Regions from separate parts of the Homo sapiens genome. Here region 1 is linked to region 2. A link means that fine-mapping ties the variant in region 2 to the plasma level of a protein whose gene starts in the linked region. Region 2 holds a variant in brackets. A gene starts in the other region. All regions are shown on their reverse strands. Region 1 holds the start of GFRA3 (GDNF family receptor alpha 3). Region 2 has its middle 420 kb from the start of ZFAT.

The links. A credible set is the group of variants that fine-mapping cannot tell apart. PIP is the posterior inclusion probability: the model's chance that the variant is causal. Protein levels are from antibody-based Olink assays in UK Biobank. Linkage for the fine-mapping came from a reference panel and not from the study's own genotypes, which makes the PIPs less certain.
Region 1: it holds the start of GFRA3, and the variant in region 2 is the best candidate, but not a certain one, in a credible set for the plasma level of the GFRA3 protein (UK Biobank, PIP 0.60).

Annotation. Positions count from the first base shown.
Region 1 is chr5:138,273,502-138,288,390 of GRCh38, reverse strand. It overlaps GFRA3 (GDNF family receptor alpha 3), which reads left to right and starts at 13,770. Exons shown (of 8, transcript NM_001496.4): 1 at 13,770-14,057. The coding sequence starts at 13,967. It overlaps CDC25C (cell division cycle 25C), which reads left to right. Exons shown (of 14, transcript NM_001790.5): 11 at 1,124-1,222; 12 at 1,761-1,894; 13 at 2,258-2,369; 14 at 2,550-3,122. The coding sequence ends at 2,699. RefSeq lists silencers at 13,678-13,767, 13,858-14,047.
Region 2 is chr8:134,282,140-134,298,313 of GRCh38, reverse strand. No RefSeq gene overlaps it. Among named protein-coding and RNA genes, the nearest start is that of ZFAT, 420 kb to the left of the region's middle. The variant T/C (reference allele first, on the strand shown) is at 7,601.

The DNA.
Region 1 (14,889 bases), not on the chromosome of region 2:
TTATAGAAATGGGATCATGGGCCTAGCACAGCTCACACCTGTAATCCCAGCACTTTGAGAGGCCAAGGCAGGCGAATCACCTGAGGTTGGGAGTTCGAGACGAGTCTGACCAACATGGAGAAACCCCGTCTCTACTAAAAATATAAAATTAGCTGGGTGTGGTAGCGCATGCCTGTAATCCCAGCTACTCGGGAGGCTGAGGCAGGAGAATTGCTTGAACCCGGGAGGCAGAGGTTGCGGTGAGCCAAGATGGCACCATTGTACTCCAGCCTGGGCAACAAGGGCGAAATTCCATCTCAAAAAACAAAAAAAAAGGATCATGATGAACGTATAGTATTGCAATTTGCTTAGTGAGACATTATAGACATCTTTCTATATCAATAAGGTATCTATATTATCATTTTAATGGCTATATAATGCCGCTCTATTCTACTGACATGTACAATTTATTTTACCAAACCCCTATTATTGAATATTGAAGTTATTTCTAATATATTGATAATATAAAACAATGCTGAGATGAATATAATTGTGCCTACATCTTTGTGTACTTTTCCTGTTTACTTAAGATGTTAGAAATTGCTGAGTCAAAGTGTGATTACATTTATTTGTATATGTATTTACAAAGTTCCCTTCAGAAAGGCTGAACCAATTTGCACTCCTACAAGTAGCTTCAGTTTCTTCCTTCCTTTAGGTATCAACCTTTCCCTTCCATATCCTTTCCTGAAAGACTTACTTTCTTCCTTTTTGATGGTGGGTAGGGAACCATTTTGCATTTCTTCCTGCAATTTCAAGCTCTCTAGCTGCTGCCTCTGCCACTGCAGAAGTCCTTGGGCATCTCCTGAGTCCAGCCATGCCTATCCCCAGATGGGTAGCCTGAATATGGTTTTCCTTGGTATCTTGTCAGTGCCAGCTATTTTGGTTCTCTAAAAGGGCCACTTCCTGTTTCATTCTCTTTTGTGGAGTGGGGCTGAATCATTGCCACATATCAAATATGGGGTGACTTTGGAGGCTGGACATACAGTGGACAGAACAGGAGTATGCTTGTAAGGAACTGTGTCATTGACCCTTCTCTCCCTCAGAGTGGCAGTGAGCAGAATATTCAGTCATTGTTTCTGTCCAGGTGGCTGCCTTACTGTCGGGGAAGTTCCAGGGTCTGATTGAGAAGTTTTATGTCATTGATTGTCGCTATCCATATGAGTATCTGGGAGGACACATCCAGGTGAGACGACATTGTGGCCATTAGTAGGGGAGGGCTGGAGATAACTCTTTATTGAGAAGAGTCTGTGGACAAAGGGGTCTATGAACTCTAGAGTCAGGACAAAGATTACATATTTGAAGCACCTCAAGGCTGAGGTCCTCATTGTTTTAATTCTGTATACCTTAAGCAGGTTACTTTCCCTTTCCCTCCTAGATCTATCTCCCTCTTTTCTGTAGGAGCCAAGGGGTCCTACCTAGAAATAAAAACATTAATCCAAGGACTGAAGCACTTTGCAAACACTTACTATTCATGAACATTCCTCGCAGTGATCTCTATACTTCCAGTGGTTCAGGTCTATAAACATTTATTGACCATCTACAAGCTCTATGCCAGGCGTTCAGGGTATATACAGAGATATACTTAGACCCCTGCCCTAAAGGTGCTTATAGTCCAGCTTTTCTGGTCCACATTATCCCAGGTTGGCGTCTCAGTCATTTCTAAGTATTGGCACTGTCTATAAGCCCCTGAGGAAATACTTACTAAAATTCTTCTTCTACAGGGAGCCTTAAACTTATATAGTCAGGAAGAACTGTTTAACTTCTTTCTGAAGAAGCCCATCGTCCCTTTGGACACCCAGAAGAGAATAATCATCGTGTTCCACTGTGAATTCTCCTCAGAGAGGGGCCCCCGAATGTGAGTGTCTAAATGGGGTCTGGCGGGTGATGGAAATGGATTTTGAGTTGGACTTCCCACACCAGTTCAGACAGAGACTGACTGGATTCTACAGTTTGAAGAATGTTAGGGAGGTTGAAGGAAGACGTTTCTAAAATTGAAAAGTTTGAAACAATAAAGGAAAAGGGATTGAGAATGAGGCTGCAGTGGAGGAAAGGAGGAAGGGTGGTACTACTTGGACCTTTTTTTGCAAACACAGGGAGATTGGAAAGTCCTTTTTGAGGTTGGCAATAGTCTACTCCTCTCCCCCCTCCCCAGTGAATGGCCCCTGGGATCCTGACCTTGTTTCTTTCCACCCCACCCATCTCTGGGTTCTCTCTAAAGGTGCCGCTGTCTGCGTGAAGAGGACAGGTCTCTGAACCAGTATCCTGCATTGTACTACCCAGAGCTATATATCCTTAAAGGCGGCTACAGAGACTTCTTTCCAGAATATATGGTAAAGGGTGGGGCATGCGGGGAGCCAAACTTTAACAACTCAACTCCCAGGGCCTGCAAAGCCTTCAGAGAAGAAACTGCTGCTCCTCCTTAGCCACTGCCAGCAGCAGCATCTCTATTATCCTTCATAGGTAGAGTTCAGGAGTCTAGAGAATCCCTTACTCTGTTCCTTACCTTTCAGGAACTGTGTGAACCACAGAGCTACTGCCCTATGCATCATCAGGACCACAAGACTGAGTTGCTGAGGTGTCGAAGCCAGAGCAAAGTGCAGGAAGGGGAGCGGCAGCTGCGGGAGCAGATTGCCCTTCTGGTGAAGGACATGAGCCCATGATAACATTCCAGCCACTGGCTGCTAACAAGTCACCAAAAGACACTGCAGAAACCCTGAGCAGAAAGAGGCCTTCTGGATGGCCAAACCCAAGATTATTAAAAGATGTCTCTGCAAACCAACAGGCTACCAACTTGTATCCAGGCCTGGGAATGGATTAGGTTTCAGCAGAGCTGAAAGCTGGTGGCAGAGTCCTGGAGCTGGCTCTATAAGGCAGCCTTGAGTTGCATAGAGATTTGTATTGGTTCAGGGAACTCTGGCATTCCTTTTCCCAACTCCTCATGTCTTCTCACAAGCCAGCCAACTCTTTCTCTCTGGGCTTCGGGCTATGCAAGAGCGTTGTCTACCTTCTTTCTTTGTATTTTCCTTCTTTGTTTCCCCCTCTTTCTTTTTTAAAAATGGAAAAATAAACACTACAGAATGAGAGGTGTGATTGTGAGCCTAGCCTGCTCCTAGAAGATCTGTCTACAGAGGAGATCACCAAGTTAGACTACTTCAGACATACTATCTTTATTCATAGCTGAGGCCAACATGCTTTTCTCTAAACCAGTAATTCTTAGGCCGTGGCTCACACCTGTAATCCTGGCACTTTGGGAGGCCGAGGCGGGTGGATCACTTCAGGTCAGGAGTTCGAGGCCAACATGGTGAGACCCTATCTCTACTAAAAATACAAAAATTAGCCAGGCATGGTGGCGTGTGCCTGTAGTCCCAGCTACTCAGGAAGCTGATGCAGGAGAATCGCTTGAACTCAGGAGGTGAAGGTTGCAATGAGATCGTGCCACCGCACTCCAGCCTGGGCAACAGAGAGAGACTGTCTCAAAAAACAAATACCAAACAACCAGTAATTCTCAAAGTTTGGACCCTAGATCATCAACATCATCTGAACTTGTTTGAAATACAGATGTTCAGGCCTCACCCCAGACCTCTTAAATCAGAACTTGTGAGGTTAGGGCACAGAAATCTGGGTTTTAAAAATCTCCCTTTTCAGTTAATTCTAATACATGGTAAGGCTTAAGAACCAGTGCTCAGTAATCCCAGCACTTTGGGAGGCCAAGGCAGGCAGATCACTTGACGTCAGAAGTTCGAGACCAGCCTGACCAACATGGTGAAACCCCATCTCTACTAAAAAAAATACAAAAATTAACCAGGCATGGTGGCACACACCTGTAATCCCAGCTACTAGGGTGGCTGAGGCAGGAGAATTGCATGAACTCAGGAGGTGGAGGTTGCAGTGAGCCAAAATCCACTGCACTCTAGCCTGGGCAACAGAGTAAGACTCCATCTCAAAAAAAAAATGAACCAATGCTCTGGAATTAAGGTAAGCCTTTCAAACAGTTTTCTTCAGCAATGTCCTGGGCTTTCCTTTCCTAGATCATTCCATGGTATGCGTTACTAAAAGTGCACCACAGACTCAGCAGCATGTGGTATCTAGACATTCTCTAAGGCAAATGACAGATCTCAGCTGGGCTCAAAGGTTCCCTCTTGGCAGTGGCTCACACCTGTAATCCCAGCACTTTGGGAGGCTGAGGCTGGCGGAACACCTGAGGTCAGGAGTTCAAGACCACCCTGGCTAACATGGCAAAACCTCGTCTATACTAAAAATACAAAAATTAGCCAGGCATCGTGGTGGCTGCCTGTAATCCCAGCTATTCGGGAGACTGAGGCAGGATAATCACTTCAACTTGGGAGGCAGATGTTGCAGTGAACAAGATTTTTCACTGCACTCCGGCCTGGGTGTCAAAGCAAGACTCCATCTCAAAAAAAAAAAAAAAAAGTTCCCTATCTATAGCCTTAGGGGGGTTTTGACTTTTAAGTCTTTTCTCCACTCCATTTCACGTCTCACAAAGACAAGTTTTAGGATTTAGGATGGTTGGAAGTAGAGATTTGTGATATATGAAGATAGGAATAAAACAAAGCAAGATCCATTAGACTTCAGGAAGATTTTTTAACTGTACTCTTCTGCAGTATGCCAGGGTTTCCTTTCTTGGAGCTTTTTAATATGAATAGGCCTTTATCTGTAGTAAGGTGTGGCACTACTTGGTCTTGGGTGGCAGTAGAACTGACTGAACATTGTCATTCTCTGGTATTAACCTAGTAGGACTGATAGCCCAGGACGGAACAGGACGAAGCCCTCTACAGCCTAGGCTGAGACAGAACAGAGACAAACATACCCTCTTCCCAGGCTCTGGAACAGAGACACTTTTTTAAAGTGAGTGGGAGGGAAGGGGGGTTGTAGCCATAGGGCGGCCCATGCACGTGCCTGAGTGGTTGGACTGGCTTTTAATTTTTTTATTTGACAAGGTTTGCACATGCTCTTGCCCTAGAGTGTCACATGCATGCTTCACAGCAGAGGGCACTGCTGTTTTCTCCAAGCCATCCTGCTGAAGTCTGTAGCTTCCATTCCTAGCTACTGCCTGTCTGTCAAAAAGGAAGCTGTCTCTGTGGCCTTCTCCCTAATCCCTTGAACTCAAAGCCCAGAAGGTCTAGGGGAAAGAGAAAAGCTGCTGCTACGTTAGGTGGAGATGGCCAAAGGAAAGATGCTGCTCCTCTGCCCCACCCACACACGTGCCCCTATAGGAATTCCTAGTAGCCAGAAAAGAAAACTGCTTGAAGCACCTCTTCGAAGTGTGAGGAGAGGTCCTTAACTCACTGCCTACCCTAGTGGGTCATTTCCATTTCCTGATAATTCTCCCCAGAAGGCTAGAACCAAGTCCCAACATAGATAGAGATTGATGTACATGTGCCCACTAGTCAGTAGTCTTAAGTGGAAAATCTGAGTTGCAAAACAAAACACTAAGGCTTAATTATCTTCCTCATGGAAAATTGTATTTTCACCCAAGTCAACATTTTTTGGTATTTTTTATTTTATTTTATTTTATTTGAGACAGAGTCTTGCTCTGTCACCAGGCTGAAGTGCAGTGGCGCGATCTCAGCTCACTGCAACCTCCACCTCCCGGGTTCAAGCAATTCTCCTGCCTCAGCCTCCCGAGTAGCTGGGATTACAGGCATGCACCACCACGCCTGGCTAATTTTTGTATTTTTAGTAGAGACAGGGTTTCACCATGTTGGTCAGGCTAGTCTTGAACTCCTGACCTCGTGATCCACCCACATCGGCCTCCCAAAGTGCTGGGATTACAGGCGTGAGCCACCACGCCTGGCCTAATATAAGCCCACTGATTTCTTGTAATATCCTCTCATTGTATAGGGACTATATGATTTGATTCATGTTATTTTCAGGAATAACAATAGTAGCTAACATTTTTCAGGTGCTTACTGTATACAAGGCTATCTCTAAACTCATATATATATATATATATATATATATATATATATATATATATAAACTCCTATATAAATACACACTAATTTAATTTTCACAAGCCTGTGAAAGAGGTATTCATTATTATGAGCATTTCTTTATGAAGATAAAGAAATTGAGGAACAGAGGGATTAACTCTTTTTTATTTTATTTTATTTTTTTTTGAGACAGGGTCTCACTTGTTGCCCAGGCTGGAGTGCAGTGGTACAATCTCAGCTCACTGAAACTTCCACCTCCTAGGCTCAAGCAATCCTCTCACCTCAGCTTCCCAAGTAGCTGGGACTACAGGCATCTGCCACCACACCTGGATAATTTTTGTATTTTTTTCTTTTCTTTTTTTTTTTTTTTTTTTTTGAGACGGAGTCTCACTCTGTCGCCCAGGCTGGAGTGCAGTGGCGTGAACTCGGCTCACTGTAAGCTCCGCCTCCTGGGTTCACACCATTCTCCTGCCTCAGCCTCCCGAGTAGCTGGGACTACAGGCACCCACCACCATGCCCGGCTAATTTTTTTTTTATTTTTTAGTTAAGACGGGGTTTCACCATGTTAGCCAGGATGGTCTTGATCTCCTGACCTCATGATCCGCCCACCTCGGCCTCCCAAAGTGCTGGGATTACAGGCGTGAGCCACCGCGCCTGGCCTGCATTTTTTTTTCTAATTTGAATTTTTTTTTTTTTTTTGGAGACACAGTCTCGCTCTGTTAACAACCTGGAGTGTAGTGGCGCGATCTCGGCTCACTGCAACCTCTGCCTCCCAGGTTCAAGCGATTCTGCCTCAGCCTCCTGAGTAGCTGGGACTACTGGCATGTACCACCATGCCCGGCTAATTTTTTGTATCTTTAGTAGAGAAGGGGTTTCACCATGTTGGCCAGGCTGGTCTCGAACTCCTGGCCTCATGATCCATCGGCCTCAGCCTCCCAAAGTGCTGGGATTACAGTTGTGAGCCACCGCACCCAGCCCTCTCCCTTCTAACTTTCATGGAGGCAATCTGAGCTCTAGTCTTCAATTGGAGCCTCCCAAAGTGCTGAGATTACAGGCGTGAGCCACTGCACCTAGTCAAGTAATAAGATCTCAAAGCTAATTAATGGTGGAGTAGGGATTTGACCCAAGACAGTATGGCTCCAGAGCCTGTCCACTTCATGGATTTTGCTGTTACCAAACCTTCATCAAAGAACAGTGTGCCTGGCCAGGTGCAGTGACTCACATCTGTAATCCTAGCACTTTAAGAGGCCAAAGTGGGAGGATCCCTTGAGACCAGGAGTTTAAGACCAGCCTGGGCAACATAGCAAGACCCCATCTCTATAGAATAAAAATCAACTTAGCTGGGCATGGTGGTGCACACTTGTAGTCATAGCTACTGGGGAGGGTCAGGCAGGAGGATGGCTTCAGCCCAGGAGGTTGAGGTTGCATTGAACTATGATCCATCCACTATACTCTAGCCTGGATGACAGCAAGACCCTGTCTAAAAAAAAAAAACCACTGTGCCTTTCCAGAGTTGGCCCTGTATTGGGTGTTAAATCTATAAGAGCCTCAATGGTAAGCTCTTGAGAATTTAGGGCCATAAGGGTTGCTTTGGCTTGAGAGATAAGGATATGAGCAGGCACTAAAACCCCAGCCCAGAGACCTCAGTATGAGGCTATGTAGGGGGTGTGCTCGGCATTGGTGTCCTTGCACTGGTATTTATTCATCAGGAGGTAAAGAAATATTGAACAGAAATGTTTTGAGCTAAAAACTGCTTCTCGAGGCTGGGCGCTGTGGCTCATGCCTATAATCCCAACACTTTGGGAGCCTGAGGAGGGTGGATCACCTGAGGTCAAGAGTTTGAGAGGAGCCTGGCCAATGTGGTGAAACCCCATCTCTACTAAAAATACAAACAGGCCAGGCATGATGGCTCACACCTGTAATCCCAGCACTTTGGGAGGCCAAGGTGGGCAGATCACGAGGTCAGGAGATCGAGACCATCCTGGCCAACATGGTGAAACCCCGTCTTTATTAAAAATACCCAGCTACTCGGGAGGCTGAGGCAGGAGAAGTGCTTGAACCCAGGAAGTGGAGGTTGCAGTGAGCCAAGATTGGGCCACTGCACTCCAGCCTGGTGACGGAGACTCTGTCTCAAAAAAAAAAAAAAAAAAAATTAGCCAGGAGTAGTGGCAGGCACCTGTAATTCCAGCTACCAGGAGGCTGAGGCAGGAGAATCACTTGAACCTGGGAGGTGGAGGTTGCAGTGAGCTAAGATCACACCATTGCACTCCAGCCTGGGTGACAACAGCAAGACTCTGTATCAAAAACAAACAAAAACCTGCTTCTTGGGCTAGGTGCGGTGGCTTAAGCCTATAATCCCAGTACTTTGGGAGGCTGAGGTGGGAGGATTGCTTGAATCCAGGAGTTTGAGACCAGCCTGGGCAATATAGTCAGACCTCTGTCTCTACAGAAAATTTAAGAATTAGCCAGGTGCAGTGGTGCATGTCTGTAGTCCCAGCTACTCAGGAGGCTGAGGTGGGAGGATTGCTTGAACCCGGGAGGTGGAGGTTGCAGTGAGCTGAGATTGCACCACTGCACTCCAACCTAAGTGACAGAGGGAGACTCTGTCTCAAAAAATATACATAAATTTTTTTTTTGCAATTGCTTCTTGTCAATCTCAGCCCAGGACCTGGGTGACCTCTGCCATAGAGAAGGGAATGTATTAAGCCATTCTTCCTTTGCTATAAAGAAATACCCTGTAATCCTAACACTGGGAAACTGAGGCTGGAGGATCACTTGAGCCTAGGAGTTTGAGACCATCTGGGCAACATGGTGAAACCCTGTCTTTACGAAGAATTTTTTTTTTTTAAGATGGAGTTTCGCTGGGTGCGGTGGCTCACGCCTGTAATCCCAGCACTTTGGGAGGCCAAGGCGGGCGGCTCACCTGAGGTCAGGAGTTCGAGACCAGCCTGACCAATATGATGAAACCCCATCTCTACTAAAAATACAAAAATTAGCCGGGCATGGTGGCATGTGCCTGTAATCCCAGCTACCTGGGAGGCTGAGACAGGAGAATCACTTGAACCTGAGAGCTGGGAGGCGGAGGTTGCAGTGAGCCGAGATCGCGCCGTTGCACTCCAGCCTGGGCAACAAGAGCGAAACTCCGTCTCAAAAAAAAAAAATGGAGTTTTGCTCTTGTTGCCCAGGCTGGAGTGCAATGGCACAATCTTGGCTTACTGCAACCTCCGCCTCCCGGGTTCAAGTGATTCTCCTGTCTCAGCCTCCCAAGTAGCTGGGATTACAGGCGCCTGCCACCATGCCTGGCTAATTTTTTTGTATTTTTAATAGAGACAGGGTTTCACCATGTTGGTCAAGCTAGTCCCAAACTCCTGACCTCAGGTGATCCACCTGCCTTGGCTTCTCAAAGTGCTGGGATTACAGGCATGAGCCACTGCGTCTGGCCTTCTACGAATAATTTTTAAAAATTAGCCAGGTGTGGTGGTGTGCACCTGTAGTCCCACCTACTTGAGAGGCTGAAGTGGGAGGATCACTAGAGCATGTGAAGTTGAGGCTGTGGTGAGCCATGATTGCACCACTGTGCTCCAGCCTGGGCAGTAGAGTGAGACCCTGTCTCAAAAAAAAAAAAAAAAAAAGGAAGAAAGAAAAAGAAAAAAAATACCTGAGACTGGGTAATTTTTTTTTTTTTTGAGACAGAGTCTTGCTCTGTCACCCCTGCTGGAGTGCAGTGGCATGATCTCAGCTCACTGCAAGCTCTGCCTCCTGGGTTCATGCCATTCTCCTGCCTCAGCCTCCCGAGTAGCTGGGACTACAGGTGCCCGCCACCACGTCAGGCTAATTTTTTTTTTTCATTTTTAGTAGAGATGGGGTTTCACCGTGTTAGCCAGGATGGTCTCAATCTCCTGACCTCATGATCCGCCCATCTCGGCCTCCCAAAGTGCTGGGATTACAGGCGTGAGCCACCGCGCCCGGCTTTTTTTTTTTTTTGGAGACAGGGTCTCACTGTGTCACCCAGGCTATAGTGTGGTGGCATGATCTTGGCTCACTGCAACCTCTGCCTTAGCCTCCCAAGTAGCTGGGACTACAGGCCGACACCACCATGCCTGGCTGACCACCATGCTTGCCTGGGAGACTGAACAATTTATAAGGAAAAGAAGCTTAATTAGCTCATGGTTCTGCAGGCTTTATGGGAAGCATGGTGTTGGCATCTGCTCAGCTCCTGGGTAGGCCTCTGGAAGCTTACAATCATGTCAGAAGGTGAAGGAGAAGCAGACATGTCACATATCCAGAGCAGGAGCAAGAGAGGGAGGGAGTTATGGGAGGAGGTGCCACACACTTTTAAATGACTGGATCTCTTGTGAACTCAGTGACAGCTCACTTATCCCCAAGAGAATGGCCCAAGCCATTCATGAAGGATCCACCCCCATGATCCAGACACCTCCACCAGGCCCCACCTCCAACATTAGGGATTACATTTCATCATGAGATTTGGGTGGGGACAAATATCCAAACTATATTAAGGAGGAATATTTCCCTTTCTTTATCAGGAGTATAAAGTAGGAGGCATGGGGGATTCTCTCCCTGTTCTGTTCAGGCATAGGTTAAGGAAACACCAATTCCTTTAAACATATGCATCTGGAGTTGCCAATTCTGAGTATCACAGTTGTTAAAATATGACACAGTCCCTGCCCTCAAGAAATTGACAAGGTAGAAAAATAAAAAATGGCTCTTTTTGTTTCCATCCCTACAAGCACTCTGGTCTAGTAGTATATTCAGCAAAAGGAGCAAAAAGTGCCACTTCCAGCTCCAAATCAGCAGGTCGGGTGGTGGGGTCTGGCCAAGTTCACACACAGAATAATTAACTCCTGCATGCTACCTGGGATGATATTTATTCGATGCTTGCTATATGCCAGGTATAATGCTACACCTTTTTTTTTCTTTTCTTTTTTTTTTTTTGAGTCGGAGTCTCGCTCTACTGCCCAGGCTGGAGTGCAATAGCATGATCTTGGCTCACTGCAACCTCCGCCTCCTGGGTTCAAGCAATTCTTCTGCCCCACTGAGCCTCCCGAGTAGCTGGGAATACAGGCATGTGCCACCATGCCCGGCTAATCTTTGTAATTTTAGTAGAGATGGGGTTTCATCATATTGGCCAGGCTGGTCTTGAACTCCTGACCTCGTGATCCGCCCACCTTGGCCTCCCAAAGTGCTGGGATTACAGGCGTGAGCCACCGCGCCCAGCCTACACCTTCATTTAAATACTATACTCATTTAATCCTCACAATGTGAAATAGATACTATTATCCTTAATTTTACAGGTGAAGAAATGGAAGCACAGAAAAATTAAGTGACTTGCCCAAGGTCATCCAGCTAGTGTCGGCATTTGAATCTAGGCAGTCTGTAAAGCTTGTGGTCTTAACTATTTATTATACTGCTAACATCCTGGATTAGGATAGCAGCAGGAATTAAAGCTCAATGGAGAGAGAGAGGACTTGAGAGAAGGTAGAATCCATGTAATCTGACCATAAGAGGAGAAAATTGAGATTACAAGTGAAAGTGGAATAAGATACAGGGTCTTTGGGCATTTGAGTTGCAATCAGTGGATTGTAACACCCTCCCCGAGCAGGATTTGTGTCTTAATCATTTTGCACCTAGCATAAAGCTGGGCTCATAATCATTCTCAAAACACATTATTGAATTGAATGATGGATGAGTAACATCATCTCTGTAGAAAGGACTGGCTCATTTGTCATTGTCCACAAGGGGCAATGCTGCTTATCTAGCAGGTGTTGGCAGTCACAGAGGACATGGTTGGTGGAGAGGGTGTGCTGGAGGGCTGTCAATATTAGTCTTGGAGTCATATTTATTTGCAGAGCTTCTCCAATCCTCATTAAAGGCCCAATGATATGAGGCTCTCCACCCCTGTACCCAGACAGAAATATGCACCAGACACTTTATTTTCTCTCATGAAAAGGCTGGCCTGTTACAGGTGGGATTGGTCATTGCTCCCAGCCCGTCAGCTTGATACTGCATTCTTGGTCTATTCTGTGGGGACAGCCCTGGAATAGACACTGAGTATCTATCAGAGTAGGCACCCTGAGCAAACTTCCTTTCCCAAACCCTCTTCCTGCCCATAACATGATTTGGCTTGGGCTGGAGGAGGGGGAGGGCAGAGGAGACACCCCTTGACCACCTCACATCTTTGTTGGTTCATGGGTCTCAGCCCTTTCCTATCATCCCAAAGAGCCTGAAATTGTTACATTTTGCTTTATAAATTCCTTTCTTAAGTATTGTCAGTTTCAAAAAAAAAAACCCAAAAAACGATTGTCTGCCTGTAATAGCAGGTGTGAGAGAAAATGAGGTGCCTGGAGCATATTTCTCTCTGGCAATGGGGTAGAGGGCCTGACATCATGGGGCCTTTAATGGTAGCCCCCCAGCTTCATGTTCCCTCACCTTTCTGGAGAGGAGGGCTTGGGAAAGGCACATGGAGATAGGGTGGAGCTGGGGGAAAACAGGCCTTGTACAAAAGCTGAGTAGCCAGATGTTCACTTTTACAGCTCTTCTGTAAAACTGGCAGGGCAGATATAGATTAAAACGAAGGACAAACTCCATTTAAAGTGCATTACAGCTCAGGAACCAGCACCCCCTGGGCAGGAGAAGGGAGGGAAGGGCACAGAGGCCACATCAGTCTCCTTCCTTATCTAGGGCCACATGTCTCTCTCCTAGCTTTGCCAAGGGTGATTTACACCCCCAGCTGGAATGACTCTCTTTCTGGGCTGATTACATCGGCAAATGCCCCCCAGAGGCCACAGCAGGATGGCCATATTCAGAAGCAGCAGCCAATAAATCTCAGAGGTTTATATTGCGATTCTCAGTACTCCCTGCTGGCCCTCTGCCAGGCTGGCTGTGGAAGTAAGGAGGGGGTCAAGTTAGAGGGTTAGGGGATGAAACCCTCCACTTCCTTTCATCACCCTCTTCTCCTTCTCTCTTTCTATGCGCTGCTTAGTTCTCATTCTTCCAAGCCATTCTGCTTCTGGCTTTATCCTGGGATCTTGTGGGAATCAGGCCCAGGCCCAATAAATACCCTTATCCTTATGGGTAGACGTCCTGTGTTCTGGGCACAGATGTGTTTCTACCTAGTTGTTTAATCCTGATAGAGTAGCTTGCTCTCCGAAAGTCTCATCATGTGAAAAGGATGGGCTCCTAAATGGTCTCTCCAGGCACCTTCCTCAGTGAGCTTTGGTCCAAGGAAATCTCTGCTATTTAGTGGAGAGTTTAATCTTCCATCTTCCCTCACGACACCATCGGGGCTGAATTTTGGAATCTAATGCCCCAGGTCTGCTCCCCCAGCAAAGCCATTCCACCTGTCTGCGACCCATCTTTGCAGCATCTTGAGCTTAATAACCACCCAATCTTACCCTAGAAGACACTTAGGAGAGGAAAAAACGAGATCATAGATGTGCAAATTCTAAGAAAAATACTAGAAATGCAAGTGCCCTTGTGTTGGCTTGTTCAAGTTTTGTTACAAAATCTCTTTTGTGGTGGTGTCTGTTCTTTGATGTGTGGGTGAGTGGGATCCAGAAAGTGAGAAAGGGTGCTTTTCTTGGAGAAATATTTGGTTCTCCTAGATGGCGAGTTTCCAGCGGCAGCTTCCACAATGTCTTGCTAGTCGAACTTGTCAGACAGCAGGTGGGCCGCCTCGGAAAGAGCAACCTCTTCCGCACCAAGCCCGGCGGCTCCCGGGGCGCCGGCCCTCCCCCGCCCCCACCCCCGCGGTCCCTCGGACCAGCGCTGGAGGCGCGTGGTGTGGACGCGCGCTTCGGAGTTGGAGGGCGGCGCCCAGGACCCTGGTGGGAGAGTGTGTGCGTCGCGCTGGAGGGCGGGAGGCGGGGGCGGGAGGTGCCGGTCGAGGGAGCCCCGCTCTCAGAGCTCCAGGGGAGGAGCGAGGGGAGCGCGGAGCCCGGCGCCTACAGCTCGCCATGGTGCGCCCCCTGAACCCGCGACCGCTGCCGCCCGTAGTCCTGATGTTGCTGCTGCTGCTGCCGCCGTCGCCGCTGCCTCTCGCAGCCGGTGAGTGTCAGAGCGCGCACCGGCCGGGGGTACAGTGGGAGGGGGAGGTGAGGTGTAGGCGAGGCCCGGGGCACCTGTCCGGAGAGGGCGCAGCAGCCTCCCGGTGCATCCGAGCCGAACAAGGGGAACTGGAGCAGGAAGCCCAGGGTGCCTGCAAGGGGCTGGGGTCACACCTAACACAGTGTACGAACTGAGATAGACTGAGTGCCAGCAATGGCCTGGCCACCCAAGCATCTCCTCCTCGCCCCTTTTTCCCCCCTCTTCCCTCTTTTGAGGTAGGTCTACACAGTCACAGAACAACCCACAGCCAGGTCACTACCAAGACAGCGTCTCTAAGAGGCGGGGAGAATCAGATCAGAAACAGAGTGTCATTTGCTCCACGTGGGCTTTAACTCTTCCATCTGCTTTAAGGACTGAGGAAGAAACTAGGTACAGGTGAAGAAAAAGAAGTTCGTTAAAACTGACTTGTTTCATAACCTTCTACAATAGCAGGCCTTGCAAGCCGTCTAGCACAGTGGCTTGCCCCTTGGATAATAAATAATCCACAATAGATGTTTTGTAGATGTAGTTCAAGGCCTGGTTTTAGAACCAGGCCACTCCCCCAAGGAAGAACAGCCTGGGATCCGAGATCCCTGGAAGGCCCATGGCCTTCGTGAGTGGTATGGGTGTGTGGAATCTTATTATGCGGCTCCTGCCCAGAGACTGAATGGAGGGACTCCTGAGACAGAGAGACCACCACACTGCCCTGAGACCTCAGTCCACAACGCAGTGCTGTAGAAATGCTGCCTTGAGACAGATATGGAAGGAAGGAGGAAAAACCCTGGTCTGTCCA
Region 2 (16,174 bases):
GAACGAAAATAATAAATCTGGGTCTTAAAATAGCCAGTGGGCTAGAATCACTAAAAAAATCTCAAGGGGAGAAATATTCATCAGCTAGAAGAGGAACATGCATACTATTTGCAGCAAACTAATATCAGCTTTATCTTTAGAGCTGTTTGTGTGCAAAATCCAGGCTTCTGCATAGAGGGGAATTTTGCATCTTAAACTCAGGAAGCAGATTTAAGGACCTACTATGCACTCAGTCTCATGGTAGGAGCCAGGGAGGGGCAATTAGGAATGTAAAACATAATTCTCAGCCATGGGAACTTTCCACTTAATTGAGGGAGTCAAGACATACACAAATATGCTGCACTTTTCCTCCATTCTTTTTCATCTCCTTCAGTTATGTGCCTCCAACCACCTGCCACCCCCACCTCCCACAGTGATTAAGAAATAAAGCTTAGAAGCTTGATACGTTTATCTAATATGATTGGATTGTAATATTCTCAAACAAAAGTGTAGAGTCTTTTTCCTGATTGTAATTTTGGGATCCTTCATAGCAGGTGGCTTTTCTAGCACTGCGGACATGTGTGTTGAACTGAGCATGACAGGCTTGCATAAGCATTGATCACATCAATGGAACTTAACAAACTCACACTCTGCTTAGCATGGCAACCTAGGCCCTCCCACCCCACTCAGCAATCTCTTCTTGTAGCTTTTTTTATGTTTTCTGCTCACAGGGCCTTATTTGTGCCTTCAGATAGAGTTTCCTGGCGTTATAGAATAGCATGAATTCTCTTCCATTTCCCCTTTTCCCCAGAACCCTGTGAGTTCTGTGCCCATGACTCTTCATCCAAGAATTTCAGAAGTCCAGTCCAAATATTCCACCAGCACTGTGTTGGCACCAGCACTGTCCAATCAGAAAGGCCTTGGGCTTTCACCAGCTGCTTCTGCTGCCGTGGTGTGTTTCAGGTAAATATGAGATGACAAGCAACCAGGATCCCTTCCTAACCCATCTCCATGCTCATTCCGGGCTCACAGGGGACCCACCCTGTTCTGTTGTTACAGGGTCCCACTTGGTAGGACAAACACTTGGATGTGGACATCCTACAGCTCAGCCCACAAACCAAGGCTCACATCAAAGCCTTTCCAGACTACTTCAAGCCAGTTTATTCCTTGCTTTGTGCTTGCCCTCCCACTGTCCTCTGCAGACGTTGATAATAACCCAACGAGGCTTGTATTCCTGCGATGGGACCATGAGCCTCTAGAGGGCAAGAGACACATCTACCTGTGTTTGGCTCTCATCCACCCTTAATGATTGTTGGTTGAATGAATAACTAAATACATACATACCAGTTTTCCAGATACCAGAAACAAAGCACTGCCTTTGTTGTCCACATTCTTTATAATAGCAATGATAACTAACAATGTCATGGCATAACGTAAGTGCTTTAAATGCATTAGCTCATTTAAACATCATAGCAATCTTAGAAAGAATGCCTCTTATAAACCCCATTTTAAAGATGAGAAAACTGGAGCAAAGAAGAGTTAAGTTGATTCCTTAGCGTCACATAGTTGATGGATTGCTGAGCTGGACTTTGAACCATGGTAGTCTGTTTCTGGAATATCAGCTCTTAACTACTAAACTAAATTTCCTGTCTAGAATAGCCACCAGAGGTCCTTTAAATTTTCATCCTGATGAACCCAACTACTGGGCACAATTCTCTGTCCTTCCAAACTGCCCTGCAATTCCTCCCTTCGAGTCTTTTGCTTGTCTGGTTTGCAGCTGTAGAGTCAATGATGCTTTCTCTACCTTCTCTCCTGTTGCTGTGCTCCTGTGGTCTTCAGGCTTAGCCTGACTGTTATCTGCTTCACCAGACTCCTCGGACATCCCAGCAGAGCTTGAGGTGTTCTCTTCTGGCCTCCCACAGCACCATGCTTATAATAGACAGTTCAGTATGTATCTGTAGCTAGGTAATTATTTCTTTCCCCAGCACACTTGGATGTCTGAGTGATGAGCTTTCTATGCCCCTGGAGTATGTGCTTCTTATGTGTAGGGTCATGGATTTCTCATTTTCATTTCTTCAGTTCCTGACACCTAGTAAAATGCTCTGAGGATGTGTACTGAACGGGGTTACTGGGAACCAGCATTGCTCTTATGAATGGATGCAGTTGGCTGATGTCTTATGATTTCTAGAGACCTGGACAGATTATTTTGTCCTTGGCTATCTTTCCTGTCTGGAATCATGATGCCTGAAATGCTCCCATTATTGAACTGTTCTTGCAAAATAAGTATTTCATCCTCTAGTGTTCTCGGTAAAACAAAATATATTTGTGGGAAGAGCAGTGACTTAAATCTCTGAAACATGTGTGTGACTTGGAGGCGTGTGTGTAGGCTGTGTCCAGGATTCTGGGCACTCACGGGAGGCAGGGAGGGGAGGCATGTGTTGCTGAAGCGAGCTTCCCCTCATTTCCAATTTTGTCGGGAGCCAGCCTCCTTATATATCCCTTTTAGCACTTCTAAGTAGCAACACAAGTCTTCCAGATGGCTGTGGAATTACTTGTAAGGCAGCCTGCAGATGATTCTTGAAAAAAGAAAGTTCTCATTAAAAGTGAATGAAAGCGTGAATTTTTAACATGTCTGTTTGAAACTCTCAGAATTTTTAAGTGAAATTAGACTTATGTGGAATGAAGCACACCCAAAGCCCTTTAAAGCTTTGGAAGCCTATCTCAGTCAGCAAACTACACACAGACAGGGTGTTTCCCTTCTGTGTGGGCACTGCTGTGGGTGCCGGGGAGGCAGTGAGGAACGAGACAGGGTCCCTGTGCCCCAGGAGATTGCAATGTTTCCACAGACCATTAGCGAGTCTTTGTAGGCAATGGTTGGAATCCACTAGTAATTTTCAGTATTTTAAAATCCTAACCAACATCTTCTTATATTTAACCATAATAGCATTGTGCAGGAGAATGGAAACATCATTTCTTTGCTGTTGCCTGGAATCATAGTACCTCTGTGTGTTTTACCACTGCATGCCTCATTGGAAGACACATACTTTATTCCATAAGACAGGATGGTTGAAGAAACCAATAGAGAGCACTATATTTTGCCCAACTTGAGGCTCATGAACAGGAGAGAATGGCAGATTTTCTTGGTGGGGACAATATTGCAGGGCTCAGATACAAGATGCATGTATGTGGTTCTATAAGAGCTGCTCTGGTGAAGCGTCTTGTAGGATAACTGTTGGTGGACACCCTCTGCTTCCCTGAGGTCATCTGCAGACCCTTCTTTCCCAGTCTGTGGCATCATGAGTCCCTTGGCCCATAGGAGGATGCTTTGTCCATGTGCAGGACAGGTTGGAAGAGAGGAAGGTTAAAGCCCTGAAGCAGTTCTCAGCCCATGAGGGAGGAGAGGAGCTAGGTAAGGACTCCAGTTTCCTTGCCTTTGGAGAGTCCACTTCTGAACTGTGCTTTGCAATCTCTCAGAGGGTCCCCTGTGGGACTGAGTCCCAGTGGCTCACAGTGGTGACCTTCTCATTACCCTAGCCTTATTAGCTTTCCTTTCATCACTGTCTCTCCTCACCACTCATGCACCATGCTTGCTGGAATCATCTCCCAAATAGGACTCCTGTACCAAATTTCTCCCAAATAAGGCACCTGTACCAAATTTCTATCTTAGGGTCTGCTTCAGAGGGAGTGCAAACTAAAGACAATACATCAAAATACTGAGGAAGTAGAGAAGTACCTATGATAGAGGAGATCTGGAAAGACTACCACCGGAAGGTGGCTTTAAAGGTGATGGAGATAGGGTATTTTTCATTAGAACACCGCCATGGTGCTATAGCCACTGGTGGACTTGGGGTAATGAACCTGGCACCTGTAGGCTGGGCTGCTCCAGGCAGGGGCCCTTGGTATTGCCTGAAAGAACCTCAACTTCTCCCCCAGCACCTCTCATCTGGACCACATGGGGGCACTCTGCAGGCCGGGTGGTCAACTCTCCTAACCCTCGAAGTTGCTGGCCTTGCCACTCTCTCTCCTGTCTCCTCCACTCCTTACTTGATATGACCTGTAAGACTGTAAACTTGAGGGTCTGGTCTTTTTCTACTTCCTCAGCATATTGCATAGTTCCTGGAACATAGTAAATGCTCAATAAATATTTGTTGCTAAATAAGGTGTTTATCCTTTCCTCATCACTGCGGCCTTGAGCACCCCTCAGAAGACATCTCCCATGCCCCTCTCTGGCCACCTCCAACACATAGTGTTAGTCAGAGGTGCAGGAGGACATTACACTATTTACACACCTTTCTGCCAGCCCAGGGCTTCTCAAAATTTAGGATATGTAAGATTCAGCTAGAGAGCTTGTTAAAACATCTATTTCTGAGCACCAAGATGAAAGATTCTGGTGTGAGCTCTGAGAGTTTGAATTTCTAATAAGCTCCTGCGTGATGCTGGGACCATGCTTCAAGTATTGCTGCTCTAGGGTCCTGTCCTGACCCTCAGCTGTCAATTCTAAGCTGAGTGGTTACAAAGGTGAAATTCATTGGTCAGTACTATTTAGGGTTTTGGGACCAGCCACCAGTACCTTTTTGCACCCCAATGCTGATGTTTGATTCTAATAGAAGAATTGGGTGGATTTTTGATGGGCAGAGATGTACTTTGATTGGTTTCAGAGCCTAATTGCTTTGTAATTATAGTAGTTTGCTGGGGCTGCCATAACAAAGTACCACACATGGGTGGTTTAAACAACAGACATTTATTTTCTAACAATTCTGGAGGGCAGAGGTCTGAAATCAAGGTTTTGACATTGATTGATTTCTTCCAAGTCCTCTTTCCTTGGTTTGTAGATGGCTGTCTTCTCCTTGTGTCTTCACGTCATCACATTGTCTTCCTTCTTTCTGTGTCTGTCTTAGTAATAATGACAACAGTCAGATTGGATTACGGCCCACTGTAATGACCTCATTTTAACTTAATTACCTCTTTAATGACCCCATCTCCAAATATGGCCACAATCTGAGATACTGGAAGTTAAGACTTTGACAGATAATTTTTTTTGGTGGTAAGGGAGGCATAATTCACCCTGCAAAATAATATTCATAAGGAAACTTAAATCTTTTTGAGACTCAGTTTTCTCATGTGCAAGATATAGATAATACTTACTCCAAAGTGGTGTCATAAGGATAAAGTCAGCTGATGCTTACGATGGCCCTTTGCTAGTACTAAAGTTTAAAACAGAAAAAATGCCAGCTATTCTATTACATTTCAACTTTTCTGAAGTTCCGTTCTTATACCATGTTAGGATCAGGTGTCAGGTAAAAAGTTCCTTTCCCTTTTCAATGATCTTACCTCATTTTGGTCTATTAATTCTGCATAGCCATAAGCATGGTTGCTTTGAGTAAAGAAGTTGCAATAGTAAGGAGGCAACACAATTTAGTGAATGGCTAAGATCATGAAGCCATCCTCTCAGCTGCATGTCCTCCTGGAATGGAGGCACTTGGTGCATCTTCACCTTCGAAGATACCATTTACTTGCCTCTGGTTCTCTCCAAAGTGAACTGCTTCATTGAGGGGGCATTTAGATGTAGTGTCCTGATGCCAAGACTCCTGTCTGGGCTGAATTTCAAAGAGGATGATTCTCTTATTGTGGTCTTAAAGAGTGTCAAATTTTCTCAGCATGAGGCTTTTAGAATTTGGTACCCAAATGGCCTAAGAAATTCCCTTGTCCCATATAGGTGTTCAGTGGATCCTCTGTTGTTGGTATTGATGAAGGTCAGGCTGCTGCTCCAAGTAGCTGCTGACAGCAGTAAGGTCTACAACTCTGGGTGAAGCTGATGCAGTGACTCCCATTGTGTTTAAACTCAATGCTCCCTCCCTTCCCCTTTTTCCATATATCAAGTTGGATCTAATGTCCTGCTGAATCTACCTCCAATATCTCTTCTGTAACTTCCCCTATTCTTCCTCCCTTCCCTTTGTCGCTGCCTTAATTTAGGTCACCATCATGTCTTGCCTTGAAATAGCCTCTTAGCCAATCTCTCCTCCTTATCTTCCTCTAATCTACTCTGTGCCCTGATGACAAAACTGACTTTATAAAACATAGATCAATTTTTTATCATTCCTATGCTTAAACCCTTCAAAGTTTCTGTGCTATTTATAGATTGCTGTGTCACAAATCATTACAAATTAGTGACTTAAAACAGCTCATGTTCATCATCTCACCGTTATGTGAGGCAGGAACCTGGACACTGCTTTTCTAGAGACCCCTGTGTCAGGGTCTCTCACAAGTCTTCAGTCAAGTTGTCCAGGGCTGGGTCTCCACTAAAAAGTTGACGGGGGAGGGGCCTACTTCCAAGTTCACTCAAATTGTTGGCAACATTCGGCTTTCGGAGAGCTGTTTGAGAGATTATGTTCATTGTTGTTAAGTGGAAACTGCCCTCAGTTCTTTGCCTCATGGGGCTTTCCAACATGGTCTCTTACTTCATCACAGTCAACAAGGAAGAGCCTACTAGCAAGAGGGACATCACAGTTTTCTATTATGAAATTGATATTTCATTGCTTTTTCTGTAATCCGTCAGTTAGAGAAAGGTCATTAGGCCAACCTATATTCAAGAGAGATGATTACATAGGAGGAATTACATAGGCAACTACCAAGAGGTGGGGGTCATGGGGTCCCCCTATAGTCTATCCAACACAGGCCCTCACTGACCATGCAATAAATCCCAGACCCTCAGCTGGGGCAGGAGAACTCATTGGTTAGGAGTAGCAGAGACTGTGGCATCAGACAGAACTGAGTTAGAGTCCTGAATTGGTCATCTGTTGTGCTTAAACCCTCTAGGCCTCTGTTGGTTCATCTGAAAGATGGAAATAGTCATGGCACCTACCTCATAGGATTGTGGTAATGATATAAATGAGAATGTAAGAATTTGTGGAATACCTAATCAGGAACAAAAGCTCAATGATGTTAAGGATTATTTTAATTAGTGTTACCAACAAATTCTCAATAATCAATGTGATTGTTTCCCTTCTAGTTTTATATTTATCCTGCCTGCCTCCTCCCCTCATGCTCCCTTGGACTCCAGCCCTGATGAGTCGCAGCACATTTCCCCAGATGTGCTGGCCTTGTTGACGTGGTGGTATCTTTCCCCATGCTCTTTCCACTAATTAGACTGTCCTTCCTGTCTCCGTCCCTCTTATCCAAGAGTGAATGGAAATATCACGTCTTTTGAAGCCTTTTATGCCCTGAGGATGGATGGGTGCCCCACCCCACAACATGCCCACTGCGGTCTCACAGTGTCCTATACTTTTATCATCTGTGTGTCTGTCTTCTCTAATGATACAGATCCTGTGTCTTTCCTTTTCGGGTCCTAAATACCTATCAGAAGGTCTGGTACCTAGTAAGTGCTCAGTTTGTGTTTTAGGAAAAAATAGAATTATGGTAGAAAAATGTTATATACTTGATATTGGGGAGGTGGATAGGGCTGTTAACATAATTAAAACTGAGAGAAATTAAGCGTTTTATCCAAGGTCACATGGTTAATAAACGGCAGAAGTAGATGCAAACCCAGCTTTGCTGACTGCATATAGGATGCTGTTTTGGGAACAAGTAAGTACTGGGGCCAAAGGGGAATGACGTAGAATAC[T/C]TCTCTAAAGGTCTTTGTGGGAATAAGAAATTTTGTGAAACAAGAGAACTCTTAGAAATCTCAAGGCGTGTTGCTTAATTGTCAATGAGGTGCCTGGTTATTTGGAATAACAAGTGGATGACCTTGGGCCTGAGAACCTTCCATCTGTACTGTTCTGGGAAGTTCTAATGGAGTTCATCTGACGGGACACACGTAATTCATAAAAATAATCATCAGTGTTTCCTATGAATAGCCCTATTGTTTCACTGTTCTGCTGTTGAATGGGAATCAGTAATAAACATGGGAGGCAAGTAAAAGGAAACCAGCCAAGTAGTCTGTTGTATGGATCTCAAGCAGTAAAGCAGAAATTCATGAGATTTTTAAGAAAAAGTAACTAAAAAACTCTGTAGTCAAGTTAACGAAGCTGTGATCTCATGAATGCTTAGGTTAACAAAAGTAATTTCAGTTTTTAGAACACGGCAAAGTTTTTCCTGCTATCATTGGCTTTTAAATGTAATTTCATTGAATTTTTTCTTCGTTACTTTTTCTTATTTCATAAGTAACCTTGTGGCTAACATAAAAACAAACAAAAAATGGAAAAAACATATCTCATCATGCCAGGTAAATAAAACTGTTTGTATTTGTTAATGTTCCCCTTTTGTCTCTACGTTGGTATGCGTCCATCTTTTTGCATTCTTTTAATTCCAATATTGGCATAATTTTTTACTGAGATTTTTAAAGTTAGAATTTTGGTCTTTGAGGATGCATTTGGTGATAGATACAGCTATTCTCACACAAACATATTTAGTGATTTAATATATTATACCTAGTATCCTTAACCAGTGTTCATGGTTCTTATCTCTAGGATGGGAAATGATGGATATAGAAGCCAGTGAGAGCTCAGAATGCAAATGCAGTAAGTAACAGTGCCAAACATAGCCTTCACATTGATGCCACTTGTTGAGTTAGGAGTTAAGTATCTTACATGAATTATTTTATTTAATCCTCATAACAACTTATTAAAGTGGTACTAGCATTGTTGGTGTTCTTACAGATGAGGAAACTGAGGTTCACCAATGCTAAGTAACTTTTCCTAGGTTATTTGTTTAATAAGTGGTAAGATCAGGACTTTGAGGAGGTAGGTCTGACCCAAAGTCCCATTAATTGTCTAATAATTTGCCATAACCCAAGGCAACAAAATTCATGTTCTGTCAATTTCACTCATCCACTTAAATCATTCAATATGGAACTATTGATCACGTGCTACGTGCCAGGCAGTTCCTTTCTGCCTGGAGCTGTCATTTGTCACTTTCTTAGAGAAAGTGTTGCTTTACCTTTGTATTACACGTTACCTTTGTCACTTTCTTAGAGAAAGTGGTTGTTATACCTTTGTATAACAGGTTACTATCTCCTGCCCTCACCATAGGCGAAAGGGCTTGGAGAAGGAAAGGGGACACTTTGAAGATTGGGAAGTTGAAGGGCTATGGATTCTGACACAATATCAATTTAAAGCTATTCTCAGTTTAAAGGAAAAAACAATGAAACAAACAAATAATAGCAACAACCCAGACTGAGAAGCTGAAGACCTTCTTGTGCCCAGGGGTTGTAGATGCACATTTAATAGCTGTGTAACCTTGGACCTCAACCTCTTTGTCCTCTGGGACTTCAATTTTCTTGTCTTTAAAATGGAGATAATACTCTATTGCGGGATCTGGCCAGAGATATTGTGGGATCTGGCCGGCAGCCTGCAATGCAACGGGGCTCTCTCTTTGTTCCCAGGCAGATCGGCAGGTTGAGAAATAATAGACACACACAAGATAGTGAAAGCTGGGTCCGGCGGGGGGTCACCGCCTTCTGGTCCCGCGGTGCCAACAATGCACTGGATATACCAGCATTTATTATTAAGTTTAGTGAGGGCAGGGGTAGGTTAGTGAGGGATTTAGGGTCATTTGATTATGAGGTGAGATGGTCACATGGGGATGAAGTAATTCTTTAACATAACATTTGTATGTGGAAGTACAGTACATTTGTATGTAGAAGTACAGTATACAGAGATAAGAATTTACAATATTGTATGCCCATCAGTAATTTCTAACAGAGCCTTAGAACAGAAACACAGTCTTTCCATAACCTATGATTAGCAAGATATTAATCAGCAGTAACAATTGCAACAAAAGCTGGTTACAAATAATCCATGGAAACAGGACGTGCAGCTAGACAACTGGTCAGACCAGAAATTCTCAGAAGGGAGTATGCATTAACCCTAAAGAGGCCTAGAAGAGCCGCGGCAAAATGAGGGCGTTTATAGCCCTATCTTATCCATATGGACAGGCTCCCTCCATGCGTCCACTTATAGGCTCTCCACAAGGGTCGCATTCCATTCCCAGAGCTATGAACATCTGCTTTTCTGGGATAGGAATCTTGGTGATGCGAAACTTTCCTGACTGCACGTCCAGTCATAGGCTCTCTGCAGGGGGAAGCACATCACGTGCTGTTGGCTCGTTCTGGCAGTCCAACCTGGCGTTATCTTTACACAATCCTGCATGCAATTTTGTATTTACAATAATCAGGAGCATTTCATCTTTTATTCCATAGCAATAGTTTCAGGGGGTCTCCCTACAATACTCAACCTCCTTTAAAACATTAACATGAGGATTAAATTGTATTCTTAATGTAGAGTGGTAAAAAAACACCATCTACCTTCCCATTGTTTCAGAGGTTAGCAAATCAGTGGGCCAAATTTATCCTGCCTCCTATTGTAAATACAGTTGTATTGTAACAGAATTGTATCCATTCATTATGTTTTGTCTATGGCTGCATTCTACGGTGGCAGAGTTAAGAAGTCACGACAGAGATTGTATGGCCTACAAAGCCAAAAATATTTACTATCTGGTTCCTCACAGAAGAAGTTTACTGATCTTTGTTTGCTTTATATGTCCATATTTTGTTAACCAATTTACAGAGGGTTGATTTATTATAGAGGCAATGATGCAAACAGAGTCACATCTTTTGAGATCACCTATTCTGAGCCATTTTAATCCTGGTCAGTTGGGTTAACAGAGTTGTAACCGAAGACCTAATGCTTTACTCAGCACTGGTGCTTTGGTTCGCAGGGACCCTGAAGACAGGATGCTCTAAGGGCAGACAAAGGCTGTTGAGGTAGATAGATCTGAGTTTAAAAATCCAGGCTCTACCCTACTTGCTGTGTGACTGGGCAATCACATTCCTCTCTTAGTCTTTGTTTTGCCACCTGGAAACATGGGCAGTGATGCCTAAATTTCAGTGTTTTGTAAGCTTAGGGATTTATGTAGGAAGGATCCAGAGAAGTGCCTGGTATAGAGTAGGGATCTGATAAGTGGTGACTATGATTATTACGAGTATCCTACCTACCTTGGATTGAGTGGAGGCTTTTGAGAAGTTATATGAAAACATTTGGATCTCATGGAAAGCTTCTAAGAAGTGAGAAACACTTGATCATAGACAACGGAGAAGAGATGAAGATTTCAAGCAATGAAGATGAAGAGACCTTTTTCTTGAACAGTAAGACCTTGCAGGGCTTGGATTGAGCAAAATAAGAGTCCTCAGTGAGCTCACCTGGCTGTACAGGGTTCATGAAAGGGGATAATCTGGAAGCAGGAGCACCTGTTCATGTCAGTGTAGATAAAAGGAAGGGAGGATGCTTTACATTTAAACCCATTTTGACTTTTGTATTAATAATATCCATACCTTTAACAAAATGTTTGCTTCTGTGAGCTGGGTGGTGAGCTGTAAGATCACAGTGAAACTGTTACCTGATGATTCTGGTTTTGCTCATTCATTCCTTCAACATACATTTAGTGAGAGTCTTTTATGAAATGTGCAATTTGCTAGGCACAAGGCAAATGGCAGCAGACAAGGAATCCACGATCTTTATATTCCTAGAGTGGTCACTTCTGTGGGTAAGACACACATAAAAGAGCCACTTCAAGTGAGGAGTTCCCTTATGGAAAAGGACACAAATGACGTGGGGTCCTGATCTTACTCAGGGATCCCAGGAAAGACTCACAGCTCGAGGAAGAAAATGTGAAGGTGAGAGGCCCAGCAGGAGTGAGGTTCAGAGAATGCCACCAATATCCTCTGCAGACTGGAGAGCATATACAACGTTGAAGACAAGCCTTCAAGACGTTGGATTGAAAGAACCCTCACCAAGAAGGACTGTATATATGAAAGCACAAAACGATGCACTTGCATTCAAGATTTGGAAAGAGAGATATATTTTCAGTTTAAAAGACATCATTTCACCAGCCTGAAATATTTCAGTTTGTCCAATTTACATAACAAGGCATGTTACACAATACACGCAAAACATATATTAGTTGAAAAGGTTAATGTTGAAAAGGATTAATTTCTTCTCTAGCAACACAGACCTAATTAAATCTTTCCAGAAGCAGATGGACAATTCCACCCTCTAAATCGAGATATTTATGTAAATATCACTGAGCTAATTGATACTCAGCTGAATCAAAGGAAGGTAAACAATGTGCTTTCATGGTGTCAACAGTTGTGAGTTTGATTTACTGCATTAATGACTTCCTGGAACGAGCTATTATCCAAAGTGAGAGAGATTCTGGGATCTAATTTATTTTCTTGATTATTAGAGTCACACTGAAAATGAGTCCTGTTTACAGGAAGTATCCAGAGTAGGAGACAGGAGCTTTTCACAGGTCCTGTTTGTCCAGAGGTAAGAGTCTCCACCAAGGAGCTGTGGCTTGCATGGGCATCCCATGACTTATTGAAGGCAAGGATTAAAATGTGGGACCTGTGTCATCAAATTATGACCCCAGTGAGTCAAGGCAACAAGACTTGGGGAAGAGTAAGGACTGAAATTTTAGAGACCCAAGTCAACTGCCTGGCATCTCCACCATTATGTTTTGGGTAAGTCACATTTTACAGCCCTCAGTTGTCTCATATGAATGGATACATTAGCCTTGGCTTTATCATTTACAGGAGTGTGGACTGGGAACTGAAAAAGTAAATAGGAAATGCATTGTGAAACAGAAAGGACTGCATAAGTGGGAGTTGCCATTGTTATTAGAGGGACATTGTTAGTATTTCATTGCATTCTTTTCTTCTCTAGGTTATACCAGCCTGTAGGTAAAATGGCCACTCCCTGTTGCCAGCCATGTTGGCAATCCTGAAATGCATCTTTCCCACCTGAAGGCCTCCTGGAATTCTCTTTCCCCTGAGGTTTTCATGATGGCTGCTTTTCAGTGTTTCATAATTAATCTAAAATGTCGCCTTTTGGATAGATCCTCTCCATTCAGTCTAAGTAGACACCCCTTCTTCTTTATTCTCCATTACCACATCTTGCACATCTTGGTTAATTTTTCTGTAACTTGACATCATCTATTTGTGATTAGTTGCTCATTTCTTTGTTTTTTTTTTTTTTTTTTTTTTTTTTTTTGGTTAGTGTCTGTCTTTCCCACTGGTCTGTACATTAATGAAGGAAAGGGTTGTGTCTCTTTCATCCACCAACATGTTCCCAGTGCTCAGCATAGTGTCTGGCACTGGTGGATGCTCAATGAGCATTTGTTGAATAAGTAAATGGATGAGAATATTCTTCTTCATTATTAAATAATATTAATAAATAACAATAATTACTCATATTCTGGCTGTCACTCACACCAGAAGGATTTTTAGAACTCTGTGTCCTCACCTCCTGGGTTATTCAGAATACCCAAAGGAAGGACTAAGTCCTCAAATACCACTGGTATTGCCAGTTTCTCTCCTCTGGCCACACCTACTGCTGGGCCCTCCAGTGTCCACTGAGCCCAGCGAGCTTCTCACTGATGGCAGTGGCAGGCCATCTGGAGCAACCACTGCCATTACTTCAGCTGCAGCAGAGAGACACAGTCAGAGCTGCATGCTCCATGGAGCCGGTGGGAGCTGGCAGAAGCTGGTGATAAGCGGGAGCCCCACCCTTCTGAGTTGGGGAGGGAACTCCCTGGGTGTTGCTGCCGCTGCCCAAGCCATGGCTGCAGACCTGGGCATCCTTGTGCTCTTGGGGCCTGGGAGCAGGCAGGAACCCCACCCTCCTGGGTATAGTTGCAGCTGCCCAAACCACAGCTGCAGACTTGGGCCTCCTGCTCCATAGAGCAGGCAGAAGCCCTGCCCCACTGGCACAGCTGCAGCCATCCAGACTGTGGCTAAAGACTCAGGCATCTCTGCACTCTTGGGGGCCCTGGAAGGCACCCCCACTCTTGCAGGCTTAGAAGTACCTGCTCCTGCTGTCTGGCTTCTCCCTGCTATTGGCACTGGCTCTGACCTTGGAGCAAAGTGGGGGCCACGCCTGGGCACTGTCATGGCCCGGCTGGGTACATACATGCTCAGGGCAATGCTGACATGCCAGCACCCTGCCACCTTGGCCCCCTCTGGACTTTGGGCACCAAAAAGCATAGGAGGGAACCCTAGGGGGAGCTGATGGCAGTTCAGCACCAGCCCACAGGCATCCCTTGGCACCTACAGCCTGGGCACCATAAATAGCAGCAGAAGGCAGACAGGTTCCTGGGCAGAAGTGGGAGGTTTCCTGGTGAAGCCCAACCTTCAGGCCAGGGAGGACCTGAAAGCTGGGGGCCATGCTGCCAGTCCCACAGATCAAAGTAGGAACTTGAGGTGTCTTTTCTGGGCCCACTCATAGCCAACCATGGACAAATGGATGTGCTCTTCCTCCCCTCTGAGGCCCATAAAAGCCCCGGGCTCAGCCAGAGCTGAGCAGAAGTCAGAATGATCAACTGCAGAGAGGAGCAACCCACTCCAGGGCCTCCTCTCTGCTGAGAGTTGTGCAGACAATGGGATGATCAGCTTCAGAGAGGAGCAGCTACCCTATCTGCTGATAGCTGGACACCTGTTGGGACAAATTGCCTAGCAGAGAGGAGATAACCTCTCTTCTAGGAGCTAAACACTCATTGGCATGCCCTGGCTGTGGAAAGGAGCTTCCCCTGAGGGTGTCCTCTGAGCTTTTCTATTGTTCAATAAAGCTCCTCATTGTCTTGCTCTCCCTTAATTTGTCTGCATACGTCATTCTTCCTGGCCACAGGACAAGAACTTGGGATTCACCAAATGGTGAGGTTAAAAGAGCTGTGTCACAAACAGGGCTGAGACATGCCCCTTGCTCACCACATTGTGGGTGAAGATAAGGAAAAAAAAAAACTGTGCCCCTCCAAGACCTGGGAGCTCCTGGATCCAGGGCTGTGACTCCCTCTTTGAGGGCCTGTGGTTCCTGGCATCTGCAAGCTTCCAGGCACCACTTGTTCCAGTCATGGAAGCTGCTTGTGGTGCACCTGGTCCAGCTGCAGCCTCACAGAGCCGGCATCCATGCTGGCACCTGGAGCTGCCTGCCCTGCTGCAGCAGCTGGCATGTCTGACTGTGCACAGTGGCTGGGCCCCATGCTCACTCACATTCCCCACGCCATTCCATGCTTGACTTTCTCTTGGGAGGCATGAGACCCAGGCCAGTAGCATGAGCCAAGCACAGCCTGCCAAGCCAAGTGGTCAAAACAAGCCCAAATGGGCCTGAGCAAAACTTGGGCAAAGATGCCTCTGGCCATGGGTTTCTGGCCAGAAAAACAATACCCCAAAGATCCTATAACATCACCATGGTGCCTGCTGCCAGTTGGTGCTCCTGGTGCTCCTGGAGGGCTGCTGTCTCTGCTGCACCCTTGCTGGCTGCTGGCATTGCTTAGTCCCTGCTGGTGTGCCTGCTACTGTCCCTAGAGATGCTGGGCTGGTGCTTGGCTTTTGTCCTTTTTTTCCCCTAATAATGCTAGTTTCTTGGTGCCTCCCTGAGTATATTTCAGATTGTTCTGGATGTTCCACTGTCCTGAAGCCACACTTCGTTCTGTGTGGGAGCAGAGGAGACTCCTCCCACTTTCTAGTAGTCCTGGTGCATGGACATACACAGCACCCTCCCAATGCCGCACATCGGTTTTACTTTCAGTCATCTCTGTAATTGGGGCACTCTGAATCTGGAGCCTGAAGGAGTAGTTGAAGTTTAACATTCAGAGAGGAAGTGGAGGTGCCAGCTGTTCCCCAAATCGTACTTCGTCACTGTGACCCAGGTGTTTGCAGATCAAGGTCAAGAGTTTTTCCTTCAGAATTGTTTTTTTTTTTTCCAGAAGGTTTCTTACAGCCTGATCTATCTGGGCACCAGGGAGGGACACAGATTAGACTTGGTTGTGGGTGTCCATGATGTGGCCATTTGGACTGAACTGCTGTGGTCAGAAGAGATAAACTGGAGTTTCTCAAATAGAGATATAAAATGTGGCACCTGCTGAGCCTTTATTCTGTCATTTAGAAAAGAAAGCATCACTTCTAAGACAGCCAGAGGCTAAGGCAATTCCCTCACAGAGGTGTCAGGCTCCATGGGTTACCATATATCAGGCAATTTTGTGCTTTGTCTATGCAGGTGTCTCTGTCTGGAAAACCCTTCACCCTTTTCTTCTCTGATCAATGTCAATTTTTCTTTGAAAGCCCAGATTAAATTCTACTTCCTTCATGAAGGCTTTCCAGTGAAAATTAGACAACAGTACATTGTAATATTGGTCTATTATCAGTGAT